Regions from separate parts of the Homo sapiens genome. Here region 2 is linked to region 1. Evidence: fine-mapped expression QTL. Tissue or cell type: whole blood. Region 1 holds a variant in brackets; the other region holds the start of a gene. All regions are shown on one strand. Distances are between the middles of the regions.

Evidence for each region. PIP is the estimated chance that this variant, and not a neighbour inherited with it, causes the effect.
Region 2: it holds the start of PTPN20, and the variant in region 1 is fine-mapped to the expression of PTPN20 in whole blood (TOPMed, PIP above 0.99). The same link has a PIP of 0.9 or more in nasal epithelium.

Annotation. Positions count from the first base shown.
Region 1 is chr10:46,997,424-47,000,112 of GRCh38, reverse strand. PTPN20 (protein tyrosine phosphatase non-receptor type 20) reads right to left here. Exons shown (of 11, transcript NM_001042357.5): 10 at 139-201. Among named protein-coding and RNA genes, the nearest start is that of PTPN20, 87 kb to the right of the region's middle. The variant A/T (reference allele first, on the strand shown) is at 1,009.
Region 2 is chr10:46,909,908-46,912,596 of GRCh38, reverse strand. PTPN20 (protein tyrosine phosphatase non-receptor type 20) reads right to left here and starts at 1,169. Exons shown (of 11, transcript NM_001042357.5): 1 at 1,096-1,169.

The DNA of each region.
Region 1 (2,689 bases):
GCAAAACTAATGTCTACCTCAAACAGTAGGAATTCAATGAGATTATGTCAATAAAAGAGCTTTTAAGTGGTAAAGTGTTATGCAATGTTAATCTTTATATTCATTATTCTTATTATTATGTATGTGGTGAAAGCTTACCTTCGTTTGAACCATGCCAGAACGTTGTTCTCTCATTTGGGCCACTATATCCATGATGTTGAACTGTAATAAGATGACAGTAATTTTGTATGATCCACATGGGGGAAAAACACAAATTCACAGATTGCCAAAAAGGGTGAAAGAGATGTCAAGATTTAATCAGAAAGATCTCATTTTCACTCACAAGAAAATGTGCTATTTTTAACTTAGCCCAATGGATAAGGAAGACTATTTTAATAGGTTTTCAGGAGAAAGCAGGAAGCAATCATTCATAATAAGAAATGCTCTCCAAAATAAGTAATAAATTTGCCCTTGTGTGTCCCTGTTTGTTATCCAAAGGCAGAACTTAAAGCAGCACTGTAATTCTGGAAAGGCACAGAAGACTTTCTCTGGCCCCAACAATAGCATATCTGTTTCTTATATGAAGATCCCTGTCAACTCACACGGAAACTGGGAGCAACAGTCGACCCAACACTAGATTCCAGACTGTGTGTGGACACCAGTACAGCTGGGTGTGGTCATTGAGTTGGTGCAGGCCTACAAAGGTCTGTTGCTGGTCCACAATGAGTCAAGAAACTGGGAGTAAGTGCTCAGAAACTCTTATGGCAATTTGACACTGGCACAGCACTGAGAAGTGTGCTCAACTGAACAGGATATAGACCAGCTCAGGTGTTGCTGAACTTGCCTGGAGAGTCACATGTGGGACAAGCTGAGAATGAGTCGTTTCAGCAAGACATTGTGGACACATGTAAATGTTGTCAACTGTAACCCCAAAGCATATAAAAATAGAAAACAATAAGCATTCCTTTATTTTCATAGCTTATCATTTTTATAATTAAAATTTTTAATTAACCCTTTGAAAAAACTTTT[A/T]GTTTTTTAGAGACAGGGTCTTGCTCTGTTGTCTCAGCTGCTGGAGTACAGCGGTGTCATCATATTTCACTGCAATCTCAAACTACAATCCTCCCTCCTCAACCTCCTGAGTAGCAAGAACTATAGGTGCGTTCCACCATGCCCAGCTAACTTTTTTATTTTTATTTTTGTTACCCAGGCTGGTTTCAAACTCCTGGCCTAAAGTGATCCTCAGCCTTGGCCTCCTAAGGTCTGGGATTATAGGCGTCAGCCACCATATCTGCCATAAAAAAATTTTATTTTATAATACAGATATACAGGAAGTTGTACAGGGTGGCCCTGTGTATCTTTCACCCAGTTTCCCAGATGGTGTCATCTTGTTTAACAAGATATAATATCAAAACCAGGAAACTGACATTGGGACAATCCACAAAGCTTAATTCAGATTTCACCAGTTTTACATGCAACTGTTAGTGAGTGTGTGAGAGTGTGTATGTGTGCATGTGTGCATGCACAGAGCTCCATGCAATTATATCATATGTGAAGATTCATGTAACTATAACCACAGTCCAGATACAGAGCTGTTCCACCACAAGACTTCCTCCTGCTATCCCTATAGAGTCACACTCATCCACCCCAATCTCTAACCCTTGGAAAATAGTAATCTGTTCTCCTTCTCTATGCTTTTGCTATTTCAAGAAGAAATAGCAAAATTCACTATATGAATAAAATTGCACAATAGCTAACCTTTTGTGATTGACTTTTTTCCCACCCAGAATAACTTGGAGATCCATCCAAGTTGTTGGTGTAACAATAGTTTGCTTCCTTTTATTGCTAAATAATATTCCATGATGTGGATATGTGCCACTTTATTTAACCATCAATTTGTTGAAGGACATCTGGGTTGTTCTGGTTTTTGGCTACTGTGAATATAATCTGCTATGAACATTTACATACAGGTTTCTGTATGAACATAAATTTTGATTAATCTGGGATAAATGCCCCAAGAGTGCTATTGCTGGGTTATATGTCAACTTTAGTTAGTTTTGTTTTTGTTTTCTTTCCAAGAAACTGCTCAATTGTTTTCCGTAGTGGCTGGTACCAGTCTACATTCCCAATGTCTCATACATATGGGTAATGTATGAGCAATACAGTTTCTCCAAATCTTCACATAATTCTCCAAATCCTCACCAGCATTTCCAAATCTTCATCAGCATGGGGTGCTGTCACTATTTTTACATAAGCCTTTCTGATAGGTGTGTAATGCTACTCCATCCTGGTTTTAATTAGCATTTCCCCAAGGGCTAATGAAGCTGAGCATCTTTTCACGTGCTTGTCATCTGTATGTTCTCTTTGGTGAACTGTCTGTTCATGTCTTTTACCCATTTCTGTTTTTCTTTTTTTTTTAACTATTGATTTTTGAGGGTTCCTTATAAATTCTAGATCCAAGGCCTTTGTTGGATATGTGCCCTGCATATAGTTACTCTCTAGCTTGTTTTTTTTTTTTTATCCTCTTCATTGGGTCTTTCACAAAACATAAAATTTTAGTTTGCTTTCCCTCTGAGATCAGTGATGGCAACAACGCCTGCTCTCACCACTCTTATTCAATATAGCACTTGACATTTTAGTACAGCAATAAGACCAGAAAATAAGTAGGATGTATACAGATTGTATACAGATCAAAAAGGAAGAGACAAATCTA
Region 2 (2,689 bases), 88 kb after region 1:
CCAAAGTCATCTTATACGGTAACATTCAACATGGTTGACCACTACCTCCCTCCCTTTTTTGGCTTCGCCTCCTCTTCTTTGTGTACACTATTAAACTAGATGTCTTCACCAGTCCCATATATTTTAAATACTATGTACAGTATATGATGCCGATTCCAAAGGTTAACTCTAGCCCGACATCCTCCAGAACTTCAGATTTAAATTTCTAAAAAGCACATTTGATATCTCAACCCAAATATCTACTAGATAATTTATGTGTGTATATTTCACCATACTAAAAAAAACTACCAGGTGACTGATAAATGGAGAGAAGGTGAATAGGTAATGTGAAAAATCAAATGTGCTAAATATTCATGGCACCTGTAGGTGGTAGGTGGTCAGAGTCCTCTGCAAAATTCTTCCCAGCTATGCTTATGTCTTCTATTGGGAAAAACCTACTGGGCATCTCAAACCTAACACATTCAAAACATAAGTACTGATTCCACAACTTCCAAAAATGAAACCTACCCCATCCTACAGTTTTCCTTGAGTCAAGGCTAGCATATGAGGGCCTTGGCATATGGGGGCATTGCCTATCGCGTTCATAGATATTCTGAGCTTCTAGAACAGCATCTGGCACACAGGAGGCGTTCAAAATAGCTGCTGAATGGATTGATGAATTCATGTTCTTTCTTTCTAGGTCCCTCGACCTCCACCCGCCCTTGAGTCATTGGGAAGTTCTGGGCTGTCTCAGCGCCTGATGATGGCTTCTTACCAATCATACCACACGGCTGCTCCTCAGGGAGTTGGTGGCATTCCCCTACCACAGAGCCACAGGGTTCCTGTCCCGGTCCCGTCTCGCATAGGCGCCCCAACACGCGTCACAGTGCAGCTGGCATCACACGGCCAGAATCACGTCCTGCCCTCTGGCTGCAGCGACACTACTTCACAGCTCAGGCCCACCCGGGCAGTCTCCCGGGCCAGGGCCACAACCCACGCCTTGTGACCCCTGCACGTCAACGGCATCTTCCTTCTTCACGCCCGCCCTCCCACAGCCCGGCGCAGCGGCCTCCCGCACGCCCCCTGCCCACCTGGCCCCCAGCCACCTTTCCTCACCTGGGCCTGCGGGGCCGCCCCAACTGTCCCGCTGCAACCCCAGCAGCCTCGCCAGTTGGGTCCACGCCTAGCCTGCCGGCCTTCGTCGCTATCCAATCCCACCTGCGCCCGCGAGCCTGCGCACTGGAGCTTTGCCCTGCGCCGCGGCACTCTGCCCTGCGCCGCGGCCCTCTGCTTGCCAGGCCGGGAGAGACAGAACCTGCCTCTACCGGTCTTCCAAGGCACTGAGAGCCCATCGCCGCGGACGCCGCTGTAAATTCCCTGCGGGCCCTGTGCACCACCCTGTGCGGGTCCCCCTCTCCCAGGCCAGGCTGATAATGTCAACAGCTCTCTGAGCTATGCTCATATCCTGAACCACTGAGGACTGTGTTCTCCAGGAATGCTCGCCTGACCCACGCCTGCCCTCTAAGCCCCTAATGAGGCCCCAGAGGGCTGGGGTGGGGGGGTCTCTTTGTAGTATCAGAGCAGGGCAGATAGGCAAAAGGAGTCAGAGCCTGTGCCAGAATATGAGGTCAGTTGGCTGCTAGGTCAATTAAGACAACTTCAGCAAGGGTGGTCAATGTAGAGGGAATTCAATCGTTGGCATTGCCTGAAAACAGGAAGCCAGAATCTTTTTATCTTGACGAACAAACCTCTATTCATTGGTCCTGACCTGAGCCACTTTGGTGAATCCAGATACCCTGAAGGTGTGACAAGACCTGCCTCACTTATCCCCCAGCCTTCAGTGCTGGTCCCACAGAGAGCCATATGCTTGAGCTGAACTGCAGTTAAGCAGTGACAGCTACCCTCTGTCCAGGCTCTGAGGCCAGCCTTCTGCTCCGTGAGTCACTGACAGTGAGTCTCTACAGAGACTTTTTCTTTCTGTAGCAGCCAAGGTACCCTGCAAGCAACCCACGCCATTGCCATATGTCTTAGTTTGTTTGTGTTGCTATAAAGCAATACCTGAGGCTGGGTAATTTATAAAGAAAAGAGGTTTGTTAGTTTCACAGTTTCACAGGCTGTAAAAGAAACATGGCACCACCACCCGCTTTTGATGAGGGCCTCAGGAAGCTTCCACTCATGGCAGAAGACAAAGGAGAGCCAATGTGTGCAAGACAGAGGAAGAGAGAGAGGTGGGAGGTGCCAGGCTCTTTTCCATGACCAGTTCTCATGAAAACAAAGACTAAGAACTCACTCAGTTCCATGAGACTAGCACCAAGTCATTCATAAAGGATCTACCCACATGACCCAGACACTTCCCACCAGGCCCCACCTCCAACATTGGGGATCAAATTTCAACACTAGATTTTATTTATTTATTTATTTATTTTGAGATGGAGTCTCGCTCTGTCGCCCAGGCTGGAGTGCAGTGGCGTGATCTCAGCTCACTGTAATCTCCACCTCCCCAGTTCAAGTGATTCTCCTGCCTCAGCCTCCCCAGTAGCTGGGACTACAGGAGCATGCCACCATGCCTGGCTAATTTTTGTATTTTTAGTAGAGACGAGGTTTCACTGTGTTGGCCAGGCTGGTCTTGAACACCTGACCTCAGGTGATCCGCCCGCCTCAGCCTCCCAAAGTGCTGGGATTACAGGCATGAGCCAACGCACCCAGCCCA